3 linked regions of the Homo sapiens genome follow. Each later gene encodes a partner of the first gene's protein in a complex. Each region holds a gene or a part of one and is shown in the gene's direction. Other genes may lie near its edges.

Region 1 (7,197 bases):
ACCCTGTCTCAAAAAATATAAATAAATAAAAATAAATCATCATGCCTATGAACTACAAAAGGATCAGCTGGCAGGAATTGAGAACAGCTGTTCCCCTAGATGCCACAATCCCCACCCCTCCGTATTGCCTCATACTTGGCCTCCTTCTGTTGTATGCTTTTTTTTTTTTTGCTTTTTTTTTGAGACGGAGTCTCACTCTGTTGCCCAGGCTGGATTGCAGTGGTGCGATCTCGGCTCACTGCAACCTCTGCCTCCCGTGTTCACGCCACTCACCTGCCTCAGCCCACCGAGTAGCTGGGACTACAGGCGCCCGCCACCACACCCAGCTAATTTTTTGTATTTTTAGTGAGACGGAGTTTCACCATGTCAGCCAGGATGGTCTCGATCTCCTGACCTCGTGATCCGCCTGCCTCAGCCTCCCAAAGTGCTGGGATTACAGGTGTGAGCCACCGCGCCTGGCCTCCTTCCGTTGTATACTTTACCTGCCTGTGGGTGTTTCGGTTTTCAGGACCTGCTGCAGAGCGTGACAATGGAAAGTTTAGAGTCCAAGTGCCGGCTCTGCTATCTCCTATGTGACCCTGGGGAAGTCATTTCCCTTTCTAAACTTGAGTTCCCCCATCTGTTGAATCGGGAAACAATCCTACCTGCTTCCAGACTAGAGGGAAAGGTGGGGATTAGGATTCACAAGGCACCTGGCACAGACAGAGAACCCGATACAGAAAAGCAGAAGAGAGAGTGGGCCCGATTCACTGGGTGGAGCCAGGCAAAGTCTTGGGGTGGGGTGATGGGAGGGGTACTGTCACCCACGTACTTGCAGGTGTTCTCACAGATGACGCCGCTGTTGTACTCGTCTGTTCCATCGCAGCAGTCTGTGGCAGAGGCAGAAGCCAAGATCAGACCTGGCAGTGCCTCCTCCCTCCCTCCCTCTACCACCTTTCCAGAATCCTGGTGCATCTTCACTTACCACAAACACCATCGTTGACCCGGTTGGAGGGGATATACAGGGGCTTATAGCCAGTGTTGGTGCAGTGGAAGCTGCCATTAGGACAGGCAGCCGTGCCTGTGAGGAAGAAGGGAGGGAAGGTTTTCGGAGTCAGCTCAGGGACAGACATGTCCCATCCATCCACAGATAAGAGCCCCTGACCCACACTGCACACAGCACAAGAAAGGAAAGGAAACCAAAGGAAGGAAAGAGTTGTACACTGCACAGCCAGGGCTCGAAATAAAGCTCTCCAGTGCCGCCTCCTGCCTCTTCTCACTGAGGCCCTTCAAAACAGGGTCTCCACCTGGCACGGGGGCTCACACCTGTAATCCCAGCACTTTGGGAGGCCGAGGCGGGTGGGTCACCTGAGGTGATGAGTTTGAGACCAGCCTGGCCAACACGATGAAACTCCATCTCTACTAAAAATACGAAAAATTAGCCGGATGTGGTGGCATGTGCCTGTAATCCCAGCTACTCAGGAGGCTGAGGCAGGAGAATCGCTTGAACCCGGGAGGTGGAGACTGCAGTGAGCCAAGATCATGCCACTGCACTCCAGCCTGGGCGATAAGAGTGAAACTCCATCTCAAAAAAAAAAATTAAAAACAAAACAAAACAAGGCCAGGTACGGTGGCTCACGCCTGTAATCCCAACACTTTGGGAGGCCGAGGCGGGTGGATCACAAGGTGACGAGATCGAGACCATCCTGGCTAACACAGTGAAACCCTGTATCTACTAAAAATACAAAAAAAAACTAGCTGGGCGTGGTGGTGGGTGCCTGTAGTCCCAGCTACTCAGGAGGCTGAGGCAGGAGAACGGTGTGAACCCGGGAGGCGGAGCTTGCAGTGAGCCGAGATGGCGCCACTGCACTCCAGCCTGGGAAACAGAGCAAGACTCCGTCTCAAAACAAAAACAAAACCAAAGACACGGTCTCATCCAGGCACGGTGGCTCACACCTGTAACCCCAGCACTTTGGGAGGCCAAGGCAGGAGGATGACTTGAGCCCAAGAGTTCCAGGCTGCAGTGAGCTACGATCATGCCACTGTACTCCAGCCTCAGCAACAAAGCAAGACCCTGTCTCTTCAAAACACACAAAAACAAAAAGCCAGGGTCTCCCTTCACCTCTGTCTCCTGCTGGATTGCTCTTGGCCCCACCCTGTCTCCCACTTCTAGGGGTTTGCCCGTGTTGACCCCTCCATCTGCAGCACCTTCGGGATTCAACTGAAACCTCACCTCCTTGGAGGAGCCTTCTCTGACCCCGAGGCTTGGGAGGAGGACGACTCTGGGCTCCTCCAGCTGCCCGGGGCCATAACACTGACCACTGACTTCTGAGCTTGTTTCTGCCCACTCAAAGGGGAGCCAGCAGAGGTAGTATCTTGGTCACACAGACAGGGCCTGGCACTGAGCAGTGTTCAATAAACATCTGATGGATGAACAGAGAAAAGGCTCACCTGGCTCGTCAGAGCCATCTTTGCAGTCGCAATAGTCATCGTTGACCTGATCAAATGGGATGGTGGCCGAACCGTCCAGGCAGGTGAAAGGCTTGGACTCATCGTAGAAGTGATGATCTGCGGGGTACAGGAAGCTCAGCCCAGGGCAGGTAAGCGCCTTCTCCACCAAATACCACCTCTGTCCTCCCATCCCCACCAGCGGAGCACTACCGGGAAACTGAGTCAAAAGGCTGTAAATGCCTATCCCTAAGGCCCAATGTTGGCCCCTCCCACCTCCAGCCTGGCGGGAGGGTGAACAGGAGGACTCACTGGTGAGGGAGACGCCCCGGGGCCTCTTGACCTCCACGGCCCAGCACATGGGTAGCAGCAGCAGCAGCGGCAACAGCATCTCACCAGACGCTCTGAGGCCCGAAACGGGTTCTGTGGGAGGAAGCCTACAGCGGGGAGATGCGCTGTGTCTTCACGCTGCAGGAAGAAAGCGGATCCCGGTCAGTGGGAGAGGGCTACTTCCAGCCAATTGGATTCCTCCATCGCTTCCAGGCAATGAGGCCTCACTTTGTTTCCGATATGGGGGCGAGGGGCAGCGATCTCCCCAATCCTGGCCAGTCTCACTTTGCTCAAATCAATGGCGAGGATCTCAAGATCTCAAAACCTCCGCTCCCTGTGCCCAATTGTGACCCAATTCCCGCCAACAGACCAAAGGGATTAACAGCCTCCGCCGTCCACACCCACACATGCACCCTCCGGTTGCCCCCTGTAAGAAACTGAGGTGCCCTCCCACCCGCTCGTTCACACCTACACGAGGCCGGAGCAAAGGTCAGTATCCACCGCACCCCTCTTGTCCAGCAGCCGCGGTTCCTGCTGCAGAAAGAAAGCGGAAATTTCTGGACCCCGTCACTTCCGGTCGTACGTTCCGCACCGGGAACGGAGACTCAGGGTCGCCATGTTGGGAGAGGCAGGAGTGGGGGCGGTGCCAGAGCCGAGACGGCCATCTTGGGCAGGACTGTGAAACCTTAGAGAGGATAGTTCTGAGGGCTAGCTCTTAATGGCGGCGCAGCGTACCTCCATCTTGGGAGTGGCGGCTTCTCAAGCCGGAAAGAAAGTTCCTGAAAAATGCCCGCGAACCCCCAGGGGCGGGATAAGGTTGGGGGAGGTAGGGAAACGGAATGAGCACGTGACCCCAAAGTGTCCAGACCCTCCGTCCTGCGGCGCGGCTCTACCCCGCCCACTGTTGGGACCGCCCCTCTATGCAGCCTCAGCCAATGAGAACGCAGTGTCAGCCACGGAACGCGGGTGATCTCCATGGAAACAGTGGAGAGAGACGGGGAGGCGGTTACCTGGCAACCGAGAGATGCGGAGCGCAACCACCTAGCGGTCGGAAAGTGCATTTTTCAGAGCCCTAGGAATCCGAGCTGACGGATCCCTGACAGGGGCGACTGACTCCTAGTTATCCCCCTAACCCCTAGGGGCCTTCAGCCCCAACCCCATCATGACATCTCCTCTGTGCAGGGCGGCCTCCGCCAACGCCCTGCCTCCTCAGGACCAGGCTTCGACGCCCTCTTCCAGGGTCAAGGGCAGGGAGGCTTCGGGCAAACCCAGCCACCTCCGAGGCAAGGGCACAGCCCAGGCGTGGACCCCAGGCCGTTCCAAGGGAGGATCCTTCCACAGAGGTGCAGGGAAGCCCTCTGTGCACTCTCAGGTGGCTGAGTTACATAAAAAGATACAACTGTTAGGTAAGATGGCTCCAGAGGGTACAGAGGGTCAGGGGTCAACAGTGCCCATCCAATCTTCATGGTGTGACAAAGGTATTTCTCCAGCATGAGTCTAGGTAAACCGTTTCTGGGCAAAAACTCATACTTAGTTCATGTTTTTCCTTCTCTGTCTCTTAAAACTTCTCATGGGTTCAGAACCGACTGAACTGTACTTCATACTTTCTTGTAATTTATTTTCTCTATTTTTTTTTTTTTTTTTGGCAGAATCTCACTCTGTTGCCAGGTGGGAGTGCAGTGGAACGATTTCGGCTCACTGCAACCTCCGCCTCCCGGGTTCAAGCGATTCTCCTGCCTCAGCCTCTTGAGTAGCTGGGACTACAGGCACACGCCACCACGCCTAACTAATTTTTGTATTTTTAGTACAGAGGGATTTCACCATATTGGCCAGGGTGGTCTCAATCTCTTGACCTCCCAAACTGCTGGGATTACAGGCGTGAGCCCGCCTCGGCCTCCCAAACTGCTGGGATTACAGGCGTGAGCCACTGCACCCGCGTTTTTTTTTGTTTTGTTTTTTGTTTTTTGAGACAGGGTCTTGCTCTGTCGCCTAGGCTGGAGAGCAGTGGCATGATCTCGGCTCACTGCAACCTCTGCCTCCAAGGTTCAAGCGATTCTCGAGCCTCAGCCTCCTGACTAGCTGGGACTATAGGTGCGTGCCACCACACCTAATTTTTATATTTTTAGTAGAGACTGGGTTTCACCATGTTGGCCAGGCTGGTCTCGAACTCCTGATCTCAAGTGATCCACGGCCTTGGCTCCCAAAGTGCTGGGATTACATGTGTGAGCCACCGCGCCCAGCCTTCTTTCTTTCTGACAGGGTCTTGCTCTGCTGTTGAGGCTGGAGTGTAGTGGTTGGATAACAGTTCACTGCAGACTTGACCTCCTAGGCTCAAGCGATCCTTCCACCTCAGCCTCCTGAGTAGCTGGGACTACAGGCATACACCACTGTGCTTGGCTAATTTTCTTACTTTTTGTAGAGATGGGGTCTCACTATGCTGCCCAGGCTGGTCTCAAACTCCTGGGCTCAAGCAATCCTTCCTCCTCAGCCTCCCAAAGTGCTGGGGTTACAGGCATGGGCCGCTGCACCTGGCCTGAGCATAGATTTTTAGAGCCAGATTTTCTGGGTTGGAATCCTGGCTCTGCATAATAGTTGTCCAACCTTGGGGGACTAAGAGTAACCTAATTGTTCTCAGTTTCTCGATGTGTGAAATGGGGATAGTAACAGTACAACATAGGTACCTGAAATGTGTAAAGTGCTTAGAACAGTGCCTGGCACATAGCAAAGTACCATAAGGTGTAAACCAGTGGTTCTTGTTGGAAAAGGGTTGGTTTGCCCCACAGGGGCCATTTGGCAATGTCCTAAGACATTGAGACCAGCATGGCCAACACGGTGAAACGCTGTCTCTACTAAAAATACAAAAAATTAGCCGGGCATGGTGGCATGGATGTCTGTTGTGGGTGTGTGTCTGCCACTGGCATCTAGTGGGCAGAGTTGAAGATGCTGCCCAACATTCTGCAAAACACAGGAGAGCACCCCACGGCAAATAATTATTCGGCCCAGTTGTTGGTCATCCTGAGGTTGCAGAATCCTTGTGTGTAAGCTATTATTATTGCTTTTGTTGATATTATTAAGAGGTAATCATGGCTGGGCGAGGTGGCTCACACCTGTAATCCCAGCACTTTGGGAGGCTGAGGTGGGCGGATCATTTGAGGTCAGGAGTTTGAGACCAGCCTGGCCAACATAGTGAAACCCCATCTCTACTAAAAGTACAAAAATTAGCCGGGCATGGTGGCGCACGCCTGTAATCCCAGCTACTTGGAAGGCTGAGGCAGGAGAGGGGCTTGAACCCAGGAGGTGGAGGTTGCGGTGAGCCAGGATTGCGCCACTGCACTCCAGCCTGGGTGACAGAGTGAGATTCCGTCTTAAAAAAAAAAAAGGGTAATCTTGCATGGTTGCTTGTGACCTTAAGCAGTTTAATCAGCCCAAGCCTCTGTCTTGTCATCTGTGCAAGGGGTATGATATGCGTATGCCATGGATACCTATTGGCACGTGATATATGGCATTCGGAAACCTCTTAGTCCAGCATCCAACACATAATAAATGCTCACAGTGAAGTACAGTTGACCGTTGAACACCATGTGTTCACATATATCATTCATCCTTTCAAGTTAAAAAAAATTGAGATGGGCAGGCCGGGCACAGTGGTTCATACCTGTAATCCCAGCACTTTGGGAGGCTGAGGCAGGAGGATTGCTAGAGGCCAGGAGTTCGAGACCAGCCTGGGCAACATAGTGAGATCCTTGACTCTACAAAAAATAAAGTAGCCAGATGTGGTGGCACATGCCTCTAGTCCTAGCTACTTGGGAGGCTGAGGCAGGAGGACTGCTTGAGCTCAGGAGGTTGAGGCTTCAGTGAGCAGTGATAGCACCACTGCACTTCATTCTGGGTGACAGAGCAAGACCCAGTCCCAAAAAAGAAAAGAAAAGAAAATACAACAGTCCTGGAATGCAAAACCTGAGTATACAGAGGGACAACTGTTTGTATCTGCAGGTTCCACAGGGCTGACTGTGGGACTTGAGTATGGAAGGATTTTGGGGTTTTTTGTTTTGTTTTGTTTTGTTTTTTGAGACAGAGTCTTGCTCTGTTGCCCAGGCTGGAGTGCAGTGGCAGGATCTCAGCTCAATGCAACCTCCACCTCCAGAGGTCAAGTAATTATTGTGCCTCAGCCTCCTGTAGCTGGGATTACAGGCACCCACCATCATGCCCGGCTAATTTTTTTTTTTTTTTTTTTTTGAGGCAGAGTCTCGCTCTGTCACCCAGGCTGGAGTGCAGTGGTGCGATCTCGGCTCACTGCAAGCTCTGCCTCCCAGGTTCACACCATTCTCCTGCCTCAGTCCCCTGAGTAGCTGGGACTACAGGTGCCTGCCACCATGCACGGCTAATTTTTTTTTTTTTTTGTATTTTTAGTAGAGGCGGGATTTCACTATGTTAGCCAGG
Region 2 (7,431 bases), on another chromosome or scaffold:
TGAAAGGGGTTAGAGAGTGCAGGCTAATAAACAGAGTCTACTAAAGGGGTAACATGATTCAAGGTAGGCGATCTTGGGTGCTTCCTTTTCATTTAGGGAGCAAGAACTATGGAGTTGGGGGAAGTGGTTTAAACAATGGTGGCAAGTATCAGAAGTGATACCAGTTATTTTCTGGTTGACATTGGCTAAGAGGACCAGGCATTGCCTGGTGGGGTCTCTGGGTAGGTCAGGTCCTGTTCTGTGCTTAGTGATGCTCATGAATTCCCTGGTTAGGGCTCAAATGTTGCAAGATGCCCTGGGCTTGGTAAGAAAAAGGTGTGGGTATCTTCTGTCTCTGAGGCAGCTTTGCAGGTAGTACAGTTGCCATGACTCTGGCTACAGTGGCGCATGACCCAGTGCTGAGGGGATCAAGCCCAGCACATTCAGCAGGATTTCTTGGTCAGCTCTGCCAGGTCTCAAAGAGCCAGATTCTTTACCGAAAACTTCAGACCTGCTGACATTATGGCTATCATAATAATTAACTGTCACAGGCCACATCTTAATTTACAACTTTATAAATTACATGTTGAGATACAAGAATCCTATCCTTAGTAAACCTTAGGCATTTGTCTTACTGGCTGGTCACTTGATTACAGTAAAAAAAAAAAAAAAAAAAAAAGTCTAGAAATACGTCAACACCAGTGAATATCAAGTGTGAATTTTGGAGAAAGGTCAGTTTAAATGAAAGCTCTTCTATATTGCCCAGCTCCCTTTAAAGGCTCCATTGTGGTTACTGTACCAGGGACTCAGCCCCAGGGTGCTGCAGGGAAACCTGGGGTTCATTCCTGCTGGAGTGGTTCTCCTACCACTTTCCATCAATACAGACCACACAACATGGACCATGTGGTCAAATTTCAGAGGTACAGACAGATGATAAACAAACAAATGCAGAGATACAGCGAGTGAAATAGACTTAAATATATGGAGAGAGAGAGAGAGATCATGTGATTTAGTCTGGTGGGAAGGAGAGGTTAGAAAAAAACAATTGTTTCACACAGTAGCAAGTGCTAAAAAAATAGTATCAAGGAAGAGAATGGCTGGGTGGAGAAGGGTTCACTTCACTTCACGTAGGGTGTCAGAAAGAGCTCTTTGAAGAGTTGCCACTGGGAGTGGTTGGGGTGAAAAATATGCAGAAGTTGTGCATAAGACAGTGTTCTGTGGGTCTGAATACTGAGACTCTAGCTTGTCACCACAACCCTACAGCAAAGGGGAGAGTGACAAGTGGTAGAGATTTGGAGATTCGACCACCCAAACAACTGGTCACACATATAACTCTTATTTTTGTTATCGCTGTCTCCACAAAATAAAATTAGTAAAGTTGAATTTCTATTATGCAGGTAACTAACCTATTTCCCTTTTATTCAAGCAATTTTATAATAGATTTGTGATATACTTGGAGATCAATTCTATGATGTCATTTCCTCAACAGTTTCCAAAGGCCTTCATCATAAAAGGTCCACATTAAGGAAAACAATTTCATCAAGTCAAGGTCCAAGCTGTTTATCATGGCAACAATCCAGTGAATGCTGAGTCAAAGGGAAGATTGTTTTGCACACAAAACTAAAGGAAACATAGCATTAATAGTCACTTTAATGTACTTCTGTGTTTACAAAGTTATTCATCTTGAGGTTGCTTGGATTTTTGGAAAGTTCTATGATCATTTCATGCACAGTAAAATTTATGTCCAATACGAATTAAACACAATCCTTTATTATTCCATTATTGATTGATTTAATATGAAGTAGCCTCTTAGGCTTAATTGCCTTACTCTGAGAAAGCTCTTGGGGGAAAGCAGTCCTGTGTCTACTCAGCATAAGCAACTAAAACTACAAATAGAAACTTCAACTTGCTTTGAAATGTTATTCACTGACTCAATCAGGCCTGCAACTTGTTTCTAAAGTCTAAAAATATTAAGTTCCAAAACTTCACAAGAATGTAATGAAAGCTCTGAAGTTTACCCGTATGTTGACAAAACATACTCCAAATAAACATTGTGCTTTCCCTGAAAAAGATGATAAGACCTTATTGTAAGGTCAACTCTGCAAATCACTCTCTTAGATAAGTGAGATTCACAAAACAATGCATTTGCATAGATAGATAGAAAGATAGATAGATAGATGATAGATAGATAGATAGATAGATAGATAGATAGATAGATAGATTGGTTGATTTTTTTGGCTAAAAGAACTGCATGGAAGAAAGAACTGGAGGATAAAAGAAGTGGAAGAGGAGGAGGTGACTTACAAAGTTTGCTCAACAGGTTAAGGAGTTTTGGCCCGGCATATTTTAATTTCAACAATCTGTGATATTGCCCCTACATCTTTTTATTATTTTTTTAACTTTAAGGGAACATGGCTGATGGGCTCTAGGCCTTAAACTCGTGAAGGAATAACTAATTAGCTTACCTATAGCAAGCACCCGGTGTATGCGATCTCCCCAGGCCACCAGAAATAACCACCAATGTGCTCACCAACAGCGCAGGCCTGCTCCCCAACACAGGCCTAGTACATCAGGTGGGGAGCCCACAGCGTCTCTTAGTAATTACTGACAACCACTCTTTCGGTTCCTTGTCTCTTGAAGTGAGCAGTGCAGCAATCTCTAGGAATTAAGTATTTGCTACAGCTCTGTGATCCAACAGAAATCAATAAGGTGTCACAGGTAAGTATAATTCAAATATGTCCAGTCTTTCCCTTTTGTTCTCTATGGTCTCAGGAATTTCACTCTTCTAGACAAGGGGATATGTAGAAACACTATTTAAAAATACTACTGTTACAAACTCATAATCACCATCAATTCATATCGGGTAACTGTTGTTAGGACATTTGCTTTAGGATAACACAGTCCATGCCTTTACCAAGCACCCTTTGCTCTAGTTTCAAACAGCATCCCAATCCTTCATTCCACAAACAAATGAAACAGTAAAGAAAAACCAGAGGCCTCGACATTGGAATTATTTCATTTGGGATTATTACTCATGGTTAGTAGAATTTTTCTGCCTTCAGTCTAAAAATGCCAGTATGTGTACAATAACATAGTTTGTCATTTTCCCCTCTGAAGTTAAACGAGCAGGCACTCTGGAGAATACTGTAGATTTGGTGATCCTGGCTGAGCCACCCCTTTTTATTGCTGCCTTAGCTGAAAGAGGATATCCCCTCTGTGATCAGGAAAAGCAGAAAGTCCTCCCACCCTGAAGATGTAAGGAATATCCTTTGTCTGCCGGCACAGAACTTGTCTTTCAAATAAGTAAAGGACCAAGGTTGCTGAGATATTTTCCGGAAAAGCAAGATTGGGCTGTACCCCACACCCAAGTGGTGTTGTCAGCCCGTTTTCATTGGGGGGAATGCCTATTTAAGCAGTATAAAAATTCCTCGTGGCTTTCCTCAGATTCCACAGACAACCTCCATCTTTTGGAAGTGAGATGAGGGCAGTGGGAAAAGAAAAAAACTACAGTCACAAGCCACATAGCGCCATTTAAGTCAACATCAGACAACATTAGGACAGTGGTCCCATAAGATGTAACACTGTACTGGAACACTGCACCTTCCCCAGAGTGCTTAGCACTCTGTTTTAGCTGCCTGCAGCATTCCGCGCTGTGACCTGCTGTGCAGGGGTGCAGCCCAGAAGCAATGGGTTGTACCATACAGCCTGGCGTGCAGTAGGCAAGGCCATCTAGGTTTGTGTCGGTGCACCGTGATGTGCACACAGTGATGAAATCTCCTAGTGACCTCGGAACGCGTCCCGCTCCTTAGGCAACCCGTGGCTGTATTCCAATTTCCCCTTGCTCTCAGAAACACAACTAAAAGCTCGAAGACCTCAGGTGACAGACTGCCTCCTGTTACCTCACCAAGACTGAAAACCTAAGCAGTGGCTCCGCCCAAAGAGCAAGCTTCTAGCCCTCTGACGGGAGGCCCGGCAAGATCGTCCTCTGGACAGCACCTTGCTATTTTGTGACGCTGCTCCAGCCCCCAAGATGTCCAAGATCTTGGGCCTTCCCTTGAGGCGTGACGCTCACGACCCGAAACACCTCTCATACAGCGTGCACACCACATTTCAGATTTTAATGATTTACACTGCAATCAAGCAAAGAGGCTGCGAACTCAAAAGCCAGCAACAACTGAACATTTAAACTCCAACGTCAACAGTCAGAATACAGCCCTCAAGGCGGCCAGCTGGGACCCTGCCGGCGGCACCGCGCACCGAGAACCCAGCGCGAGCAGTCGCTGAGCCGATGGGCGGGGCCCAGCTGTAGCTTTGGCTACGTCGCGGGCAGCCTGGGAGCCAATCCGCGGCGGGCTGAGCCGTTGCCTTGGCTACACCGTCTGTTAGGGCCGCGCACGAGATCAGTAACTGAGACCTCACCGCGTTGACCCAGCACCAGGGCTCGCGGGGGTCCCGCGAGGGTCTCGGTAGCCGCGCGCCCAGAGACCCCCGCCGCGGCCCGATTCTCTGAGCGCCAGACATGAACCGCAAGAAACTGCAGAAGCTGACGGACACCTTAACCAAAAATTGCAAGCATTGTAAGTAAGAATGTAGTGCTGGACAGGCCGAGGCTCCTGGACCGAGCCTGGGTCCCACCCCGTGCTAAGGTCCGCTGTTGTGCCTGCTTCCCGCCTGCTGGGACTCTGTGGGCTACCTACCGCCCCTCCACCCCGGCCCCTTAAGCAGAAGTCAGAGAGGGAATCCCGGGGTGCCAGCTCCTTGCGTTTGATCTTAGGAACCCAGGCCTCCGCCTCTGGTGCTACCTACACTCCCACACATGCATTTACTTGCTTCTCCAACCCTCTTCTTTTACCTGATAGAAACATGTGATGTTAGCCTCAATGAGGTGTAAAATAAATGCTAAAACCAACTGGTCTCAAGAAAAGTAGCACCACCAAGGTAGACCGTGCACTCACCCTGCTTTATAGCTCGCACATACACCCGCAGGTCCAAGTTCTGGAAGCTTACCAAGAGACCCATAGGAGAAAACGGTGCTCAACTTCTCAACATCTTTCGGAGAGATGAGTTGTGTCATCTCATCTGTGCCTCAGAACAATATTTGTTTGGAAACCAGAGTTCAGCACAACTAAACACGTGGTAAAGAATGGGTTCCCAACTTTAGACTCCCACTTTCCAGTGGCCCCTGGTGTTGAAAGATAAAGGAGACTTTGCAGGTGACAAGATGAGCCCTATTTGAAGGCACCTGCTCTAATCTCGCATTTGAAAGGGTGGTCCTAGAATTTCATAGGAAACTTTGAGTTTATATTCAGACTGAAAAACATAATTGCACTTTAGCAAGGAAGCCGTGGGTATGGTTTAGATGAGGAAGATAATTTCCTGTCGAGCAAACTTAGAAGTTGTGTGTGCTAATTGCAAAACTACTGGCCACTTGAAGAAACAGAAGCAACAATCCCCCAAATAACCGAGTCGCTCAAAAAAGAAGGAATAAACATGTTGATGTAGTTTTAGAGATTGTAAGATCTAGTGCATTCTAATTATCATTAGTATCTGATTTAATACCTGGTAAGAAATGCTCTCTTAGTGGATGGTGATATAAATGAATATTATGGTGTGTGTACGCATCTTAAAATGTTTAGGAAAAAAATCCTGTAATTTAAGATATTATTATGACTACTATACTCTGATGAGGGTTTTGTTCTGTTATTGTTTTTCTTAAAACACTTTCATTTCTGGGAGAATAGGTATTCTTCTAGTAAACATCTAGTAAACATTTTTGATAAATATTCAAAAACAATGCAATAGCTGCTATACACAATACTGATTTTGTCCCTTTCCGTAAGTTTGAATTTGATTTAGTCTCTGTTCGGTAAGTTTGAATGCATTGCAGACAATCATTCTGTGAACAATCAAAAGGTGAGTGTATATTTTTAAAGGTAAGTAAAAATATGGCAGGAAAAAGTCTGCTCTTGATTTTTTTGTTTACTAAAAAATTTTCAATGAGTCTTACAAACTTAGATGATTATTAGTTAAAGTCTATAGAAATAGTTATACGTCATGGACATTATAATAATTTTAAATTTTCTTTAACGGAAGAACTTTCCCCTAAAGTTAAATTTTGTTTTAGTTGCAAGACAATAAAGCTATCAAGATTCAATGGATAAATTTTGTAGAATCAAAGAAGAGTGAAAGATCTTAAGAGAACATCTAGTTCATGCACTGTTCTACAGATATGTTCTGCAGGACACATTCACAGCATTCCAAGAAGATGAAAACCTATTCTTGAATTTTCTTGTTTCATTTAGTATTGTATTCTAGAATTTAAGAAATGTTTAGCAATAAAAGTTTTCTTATGGCTAACCTTTGATCCTTTGGGTAATAAATTAAACTAGTTTTTAAAAATTTTTATTTCAGCTGAGATGGAAAAATGGCTAACCAACATCCCCTCTGCTACCATTTTATGTACATGAACAGAGTACATCATTCTTCATGCAGGCTTTTCTTCCGCAACAACTAACAGCTCTTGCTTTTTAGGAGGTTTGTGTGTGTGTGTGTATGTGGTTACATATAACATGAAATTTACTATTTTAACCATTTTAAGTGCTTAATTTCATGGCATTAAGTACATTCACACTGTTCTGCTTGCAACACCACCATCCACCTCCGTAACTTGTTCATTGTTCCCAGTGGAAACTCTACCCATTAAATGTTAACTCACCATTCCCTCCTCATCCTAGTCCCTGGCAACTATCATTCTACTTTGTCTCTATAAATCTGACTAAGTACCTTATATAAGAGGAATCATACAATATGTGTCCTTTTGTGTCTGGCTTATTTGACTAAGTGCAATATCCATAAATGTTCATCTATGTGTCAGAATTTTCTTCCTTTTTAAGGCTGAATGATATTTCATTGTATGAATACACCACATTTTGTCTATCCATTCCTCCATTGATGGACTCTTGCATCTGTCTTTTGACTGTTGTGAATGATGACACTATGAACATTGTTGTACAGGTTCCTGCTTTCAGTTCTTCTGAGTATGTAAATAGAAGTAGAATTCCTGGATCACGCAATAATTGTGTTTAATTTTTATGAGGAGCTATCATACTGTTTTCCACAGTGACTAACAGCTGTTTTTGAAATCATAACCATTATATTGTTTCCTACTATTTATTTGCTGAATCTTTTTTCCCAGACTTTTTAGTGTTTCTCTTTAAATGTGGTTTTCCAAACCAGAAATCCCACAAATGCCTGTACTGACCTCTAGGATGAGGTGTGATTTTTCCATTCCTAGATGCTGTCTTCTGTTATACACACACAGGTTTTGTCCTTGTTTGTTAAAATGCTCAATCACAGTTTTGACTGGTTTCAAAATAAATTTTCCCCAACTTCCGCCCATACTTGGTATTTGAGCTTTTATATTATCAAGACCAGGCAATAACCCTTCCACCT
Region 3 (7,802 bases), on another chromosome or scaffold:
GAGAGAGTCTTGCTCTGTCGCCCAGGCTGGAGTGCAGTGGTGTGATCATGGCTCACTGCAACCTCTGCCTCTCGGGTTCAAGTGATTCTCCTGCCTCGGCCTCTGGTACAGCTGGGATTACAGGTGTGTGCCACCACACCAGGCTAATTTTTGTATTTTTGGTAGAGATGGGGCTTCACCATGTTGGCCAGCCTGGTCTTGAACTCCCGACTCGAGGTGATCTGCCTGCCTTGGCCTCCGAAAGTGCTGGGATTACAGGAGTGAGCCACCACGCCCGGCCAGACATGTATGTTTATTTACTTATGTTCTATTTCACAATAAAAGAAGAAATAAAGCAATAACATGAGGAACATAGCTATAAATGGCTGGGACACACTGGAATCCAATTCTAGCACTCTTTATCCTGCTAATCGAACCCAAGGAATAGGCCCCAACCCAGCTCACTTATATCCTTGTGCTGTAGCCTGGAGCAAACCTTGTCATTTCTCTCAGCCTCAGAGTTTCTCATCTGTGAAACCAGGAAACCACTGACTGGCTCTTTACTTCACTAGGGTGTTGTCAAGCTCACAGTGCTTTATAAATTGCCAGAAAGCACACATTATGATTGGTATTTTATGGTTTTTGTTTTGTTTTGTTTTTTTGAGATGAAATCTCATTCTTGTTCCCCAGGCTGAAGTGCAATGGCACGATCTTGGCTCACTGCAACCTCCACCTCCCAGGTTCAAGCGATTCTCGTGCCTCAGCCTCCCGAGTAGCTGGGATTACAGGTGCCTGCCACCATGTCCGGCTAATTTTTGTATTTTTAGTAGAGACAGGGTTTCACCATGTTGGCCAGGCTGATCTTGAACTCCTGACCTCAGGTGATCCGCCCGCCTCGGCCTCCCAAAGTGCTGGGATTATAGGCATAAGCCACCACGCCAGGCCTTATTGTGTTTTTAAAACAGCTTTCTTAATATATAATTAATGTACAATAAACTGCACATAAAGTGTACAATTTGATGAGGTTTTTGGTCTTTTTTTTGAGATGGAGTTTCACTGTTGTTGCCCAGGCTGGAGTGCAATGGCACGATCTTGGCTCATCACAACCTCCGCCTCCCAGGTTCACGTGATTCTCCTGCCTCAGCCTCCCGAGTAACTGGGATTCCAGGCATGTGCCATCACGCCCAGCTAATTTTGTATTTTTAGTAGAGACAGGGTTTCTCCATGTTGGTCAGGCTGGTCTTGAACTCCCGAACTCAGGTGATCCACCCACCTCAGCCTCCCAAAGTACTAGGATTACAGGCTTGAGCCACCATGTCTGGCCAATTTGATGAGTTTTAATACATGTATATACCTGTGAAACAATTACCACAATCAAGATAATGAACATATTCCTCACCTCCATGAGTTTCCCTGTACTCCTTTGTAATCTACCCCTCACTTCCCTACTGCCATGTTCCCAGGCAGTTAGTCTGCATTTTCTAGAATTGTATTTTATTTGAGATGTGATGTCACTATGTTGCTCAGGCTGGAGTGCAGTGGCCTGATCATAGCTCAACCGTGTTAGCCAGGATGGTCTTGATCTGCCCGCCTGGGCCTCCCAAAGTGCTGGGATTACAGGTGTGAGCTACCACACCCGGCCACATTTAAATATTTCTAGTTAATTTTTGTATATGGTATGAGGTAAGGATCAAGGTTTAGACTAGGCGCAGTGGCTCATGCCTGTAATCACAGCACTTTGGGAGGCTAAGGTGGGTGGATTACCTGAGGTCAGAAGTTCGAGATTAGCCTGGCTAACACAGTGAAACCCTGTCTCTACCAAAAATATGAAAATTAGCCGGGCATGGTGGTGCACACCTGTAGTCCCTGCTACTTGGGAGGCGGAGGCAGAAGAATCACTTGAACCTGGGAGGCAGAGGTGGCAGTGAGCTGAGATCACGCCACTGCACTCCAGCCTGGGTGACAGAGTGAGACTCCATCTCAAAAAAAAAAAAACTCAATATTTATATTTAGACAGGCATGGTGGCTCACATCTGTAAGCCTGGCACTTTGAGAGGCCGCGGTGGGAGGATTGCTTGAGTTCAGGAGTTCAAAACCAGCCTGGGCAACATGGCAAAACCCTGTCTCTACCAAAACAACACAAAAATCAGCTGGGTGTGGTGGTGCGTGTCTGTAGTCCCAGCTACTCAGGAGGCTGAGGTGGGAGGGTGGCCTGAGCCCAGAAAGCAGAGGTTGCAGTGAGTCAAGATCTCACTACTGCACTCCAGCCTGGTGGACAAGGCCAACTCTCTCTCAAAAAATAAAAATAAAAATTAATTAAATACATATTTACATTAAAATATTTCCAGTTGATTTTTGTATATAGTGTGAGGTAAGGATCAAGGTTTTTTATTTTGGATTTTGTCTTTCCATATGGCTATCCAATTGCTTCAGCACACATTTGTGGAAAAGAGTATCCTTTCTCCATTGAATCTCTTTGGCAACTTCATTGAACATCAATTGATCATATATGTGTGGATCTATTTCTGTTCCATTAATCCATATATATTTACATATTTATGCTAATACCATTACCGTAGCTTTAAAATAAGTCTTGAAATCACAGAATTTAAGTTCTCTTTTGTTCTTCTTTTTCAAAATGGTTTTGGCTATTTTAGGTCTTTTGCATTTCCACATAAATCTTAAAATCAGCTTGTTAATTACTGAAAAAAAAAAAAGGCTGCTGGGGCCAGGCACAGTGGCTCATGCCTGTAATCCCAGCACTTTGAGAGGCTGAGGCGGGCAGATCACCTGAGGTCAGGAGTTCAAGACCAGCCTGGCCAACATGGTGAAACCTCATCTCTACTAAAAATACAAAAAATTAGCTGGGCATGGTGGTGTGCACCTGTAATCCCAGCTACTCAGGAGGCTAAGGCAGGAGACTAGCTTGAAACCGGGAGGCGGAGATTGCAGTGAGCCGAGATCACATCACTGCACTCCAGCCTGAGTGACAGAGTGAGACTCCACCATAAAAAAAAAAAAAAAAAAGCTGCTGGAGTTCTGATTGGAACTGCACTGAATCTGTAGATCTCTTCCTTGCAGGAGGTTTTTTTCTGATTAATCCTGGTTGCTCCAGCAACAGTCCTCAACTCATCAATGAGCCCACCTTAACTTAGAACAGGACCAGTTTCACTGCAGGTCCTTAAACCTGTTGCTGCTCCTTAAACACCCTGTGAATGTACACACCTCCAGCCTTTGCACATGTTATTTCCTTTTTTTTTTTTTTTTTTGAGACAGGGTCTTGCTTTGTTACACAGGCTACAATGCAGTGGCCCAAACATGGCTCACTGCAGCCTCGACCTCCCACGCTCAAGTGATCCTCCTGCCTCAGCTTCCTGAGTAGCTGGGACTACAGGCACACGCCACCACACCCAGCTCACTTTTGTATTTGTGGTAGAGACAGGGCTTCGCCATGTTGCCCAGACTGGTCTCGAACTCCTGAGCTCAAGCGATCCTCCCACCTCAGTCTCCAAAGTACTGGGATTACAGGCATGAGCCACCACACCTAGCTCTCATTCTCTACTTACGTCTACTGGGCTCCACCATACTCACCCTCAGCTCAAATATTACCCCTCTATGAACATGTCTCTAACCCATCCCAGACCCTGGCTGAATCATTCATTTGCCTGGGTTTCACACCACTTTGTCCTCATCTCCCTCACAGGCACACAGAACTTTTAATTACTAGTTAATATCACTTAAGTGGCCGTTACTTGTTTATACATCTTTCTCCCCTATTAGATAAAACTCCTTCAAGCAGGGACCATATTATTTCTTATATTTTGAATTAAACCTTTTGAGATAATCATAGATTCATATGCAGTTCATAAGAAATAAATACAAAAGAGATCCCATGTACCCTTTTCCCAGTTTCTCCCAATGGTAACATCCTTAAAAACTTTAGTACAATAACACAACCAGAAAATTGACACTGATACAATCCACTGATCTTACTCAAATATCCCCAGTTTTACATGTATGCCGTGTGTGTGTGTGTGTGTGTGCATTTGTAGTTAAAGACATCTTTTTACTATTTAAACTTTAACAATGACATTAGGACGTTTTGGAAGTAACGTAGTAAAGGCAGTTAAGCAAGCTACTTAGGGTATCGTTGGAGCCCAGAAGAAGCACCTAGTCCACTTTTGGAGGAGTGGTGATGGTGAGGGAATGGGGAAGGACGTCAGAATATGCCTTGGTCAAGGCCCGCTACTAGTAGCTGCTCAAATAACTGCGTTAAATTATGTTGAACCCAACGTTATTTTCCATGTTTTCTTATGCAAATCCTCGCATCCCTGAGTGTTCCATTATTTTCATATTTATTTGGCAGGTGGAACATTCGAGGCTGGGAGCCCTTACATGCCCCGCGAGAGGTCACGCAGTTAGGAAGTGACAGGAGCGAAGTCAGCCCAAGTCTGCTGACTCCAAGCCCAGTGCTCTCTCCCCCTAATGGCGGTACGCCGTGCACATATCCTTACCACGTATGCCTCATCCCTATTCGGAACTTTGCCTCCAACCCTCTTCCTGTTTTCTTGGCTGTCTTACAAGGGAGCCTTTTCAGGCAGCAACTCCAGAGAGAACCGCCAGAGCGTGCAACAGCAAACACTAACCAGCCCAGCCGTCAGCCACGCAATCATCACTCCCTGGCCCAGTGCGCGGCAGAACTGGCGCAAGCGCACGCCGGCAGGTTGTACCCAGAATCCGGGCCCTTGCCAGACGGGGGCGGAACCGGAAGTCGCTGTACATCTCATGGTTGCTAAGAAACGGAGCTTCCACAAACCAGATAGAGGTTCTCCAGCTTTTCTTTGATTGTCTCTGCTTTAGCGTCTCTAAATCCGGTCACCATGTCGGACCCCGAAGGCGAGACCTTGCGAAGCACCTTTCCCTCTTATATGGCCGAAGGCGAGCGGCTCTACCTGTGCGGGGAATTTTCTAAAGCCGCGCAGAGCTTCAGCAACGTGAGTCGAGCTCTCAACCTATCCATCACCCCATCACCCGTCACTTTTTTTTTTTTTTTTTTTTTTTTTTTTTGTGACGGAGTTTCGCTCTTGTTGCCTAGGCTGGAGTGCAATGGCACGATCTCGGCTCGCCGCAACCTCCGCCTCCCGGGTTCAAGTGATTCTCCTGCCTCCACCTCCCAAGTAGCTGGGACTACAGGCGCGTGCCACCATGCCCGGCTAATTATTTTGTCTTTTTAGTAGAGATGGGGGTTTCACTGTGTTGGCCAGGCTGGTCTCGAACTCCTGACCTCGTGATCCACCCGCTTCGGCCTCCCAAAGTGCTGGGATTACAGGCGTGAGCCACTGCGCCTGCCCCCTGCCCTCACCTTTTGATTGCAGATAACACTGAGGTCTTGATGATGCCTGGAGGACCCTGTTGTTTCTATTATTCACTGATTTTTGATGGACACACTGCTGTCACAGATAAGCCCTGTGGTTGGCCATTTTCTACCAGTTCCCACTTGCAATCTCCATTCTCTGCGTTAACAGTGACCTTTTCCTCCACTTTTACTTAAATGTTTCATGATTAACCGGCCTCCTTCCACAGAGCAGCCTTACCTTCCCATCATTTGCTGGCAGATTGGATGGGAGGTTGCATGCAGAAGCCTCAATGTCCCCAGCACACCGTTGCTTATAAAAGGTGGCCAGTAAGCAACATATGATTATTATTATCAATTTTGAGACAAAGTTTTGCTATGTTGCCCAGGCTGGAGTGCAGTGGCAAGATCTCAGCTCACTGCAACTTCCGCCTCCCCAGGTTCAAGCGATTTTCCTGCCTCAGCCTAGGGAGTAGTTGGGATTACAGGCATGTCCCACCACGCCTGGCTAATTTTTGTATTCTTAGTAGAGACAGGGTTTCACCATGTTGGCCAGGCTGGTGTCGAACTCCTGACCTCAAGTGATACACCTGCCTCGGCCCCCCAAAGTGCTGGGATTACTGAGGTGAGCTGCTGCACCAACCAGCAACATTATTATAGTAACCCTAGTATAAATTGCATCATCCCACCCTAAGGGGATTGGGTGATGGTTTTTGTTGTTGTTGTTGTTGTTGTTGTTGTTGTTTTGGAGACGTAGTCTTGCTCTGTCTCCAGGCTGGAGTGCAATGGTGCGATCTTGGCTCACTGCAACCTCCACCTCCTGGATTCAAGTGATTCTCCTGCCTCAGCCTCAGGCACACTGCTAAGCAGACTGGATTTTTGTTGTTGTTAAGATGGAGTTTTGCTCTTCTTGCCCAGGCTGGAGTGCAGTGGCGCAATCTCGGCTCACCCCAACCTCCACCTCCCAGGTTCAAGCGATTCTCCTGCCTCAGCCTCCCGAGTAGCTGGGATCCCAGGCATGCACCACCATGCTCGGCTAATTTTGTATTTTTAGTAGAGACGGGGTTTCTCCATGTTGGTCAGGTTGATCTCGAACTCCCCACCTCAGGTGATCCCCCCCCACCTCAGCCTCCCAAAGTGCTGGGATTACAGGCGTGAACCACCCCACCCAGTGCATACTCAATTTTATAGATTAGGAAATATACAGAAGTTGAGCAACATGCCCAAGGTCGCTAAACTAGCAAGTGGCAGAGGAAGGATTCAAAGCCGGGCTCAGACTCCAATGCTGAGGTGCTAACCACAAAACTACACATCTGACATCTGCATAAGGAAACTGTTGTTTTTTTTTTGTTTGTTTGTTTTTTCAGAGACAGGATCTCGTTCTGTCTCCCAAGCTGGAATGTGGTGGCACAATCACAGCTCAATACAGCTTCAAACTCCTGAGCTCAAGTGATCCTCCCACCTTAGTGTTCCAAGTAGCTGGAGCTACAGGCTTATGCCACCACGCCTGGCTAATTTTTTCTTTTCTTCTTTTTTTTTTTTTTTTTTGTAGAGATAGGTGTTTTGCTATGTTGCCCTGGCTGGTATTGAACACTTGAGCTCAAGTAATACTCCCGCTTTGGCCTCACAAAGTGCTAGGATTACAGGTATGAGATACAGTGCCCTAAAAACATGTTTTTATGACCATTTCTTTTGCTCCAAATTGCCCACTTCTTCTGCTCCAAATTGCCCACTTCTTCTTCTAGATGGAGTGATAGGATAACCCTGTAGTTTTGAGACTTCCTGTAAGATCAAGCTTCTCAACAGCTCCCCAGAGTCGTTTGTCCCTTTCAGTCACCAACCACACCCTAAAACCAGAAATGATGACCAGATAAGTGAACAATTGAGTTCGGTAGCCCTGTCCCCACTTATTCTCCTCCTGCTGGATCATGTCCCATCCTGAAGTACCCACCAGCAGAGAAAAAAGAACACCCTGAGGGAAGGGTAGCCTTGGATGAGAAGCAGTCACTTTCCAGAAAGACAGTAGCTACTTCCTCTTCTTAGAAAAGTAGGAAGGTCTTAGAAAGGGGTGGGTACCAGGAGACAGAGGGTTGCAGTGAGCCAAGATCATGCCATTGCACTCTAGCCTGGGCAACAAGAGTGAAACTCTGTCTCAAAAAAAAAAAAAAAAAAGACCAGGTCAGGTGGCTCATGCCTGTAATCCCAGCACTTTGGGAGGCCAAGGCAGGTGGATCACCTGAGGTCAGGTGTTTGAGACCAGCCTGGCTAACATGGTGAAACCCTGTTTCTACTAAAAATACAAAAAATCAACCGGACGTGGTGGCGAGTGCCTGTAATCCCAGCTACTCCGGAGGCTGAGGCAGGAGAATTGCTTGAACCCGGGAGGCGGAGGTTGCAGTGAGCCGAGATCGTGCCATTGCACTCCAGCTTTGGCAACAAGAGCAAAACGCCATCTCAAAAAAAAAAAATT

Evidence for each region.
Region 2: ODAD3 (region 1) and CLXN share a complex: the UniProt entries of both Homo sapiens proteins name them as parts of the outer dynein arm-docking complex.
Region 3: ODAD3 (region 1) and ODAD4 share a complex: the UniProt entries of both Homo sapiens proteins name them as parts of the outer dynein arm-docking complex.

The regions. Positions count from the first base shown.
Region 1 is NC_000019.10:11,431,739-11,438,935, reverse strand, and holds the start of ODAD3 (outer dynein arm-docking complex subunit 3), read left to right. Parts: upstream 1-3,814; 5' UTR 3,815-3,919; coding exon 3,920-4,163; intron 4,164-7,197. Other genes in the region: PRKCSH (glucosidase 2 subunit beta isoform 3 precursor), read right to left, coding at 812-869, 965-1,060, 2,431-2,547, 2,740-2,818. UniProt on the Homo sapiens protein: Component of the outer dynein arm-docking complex (ODA-DC) that mediates outer dynein arms (ODA) binding onto the doublet microtubule. Involved in mediating assembly of both ODAs and their axonemal docking complex onto ciliary microtubules.
Region 2 is NC_000008.11:48,732,219-48,739,649, reverse strand, and holds the start of CLXN (calaxin), read left to right. Parts: upstream 1-4,381; 5' UTR 4,382-4,498; coding exon 4,499-4,556; intron 4,557-4,965; exon of another isoform or gene 4,966-5,115; intron 5,116-6,390; exon of another isoform or gene 6,391-6,513; intron 6,514-7,431. UniProt on the Homo sapiens protein: Component of the outer dynein arm-docking complex (ODA-DC) that mediates outer dynein arms (ODA) binding onto the doublet microtubule. Seems to regulate the assembly of both ODAs and their axonemal docking complex onto ciliary microtubules.
Region 3 is NC_000017.11:41,925,865-41,933,666, forward strand, and holds the start of ODAD4 (outer dynein arm-docking complex subunit 4), read left to right. Parts: upstream 1-4,752; 5' UTR 4,753-4,859; coding exon 4,860-4,973; intron 4,974-7,802. UniProt on the Homo sapiens protein: Component of the outer dynein arm-docking complex (ODA-DC) that mediates outer dynein arms (ODA) binding onto the doublet microtubule. Plays an essential role for the assembly of ODA-DC and for the docking of ODA in ciliary axoneme.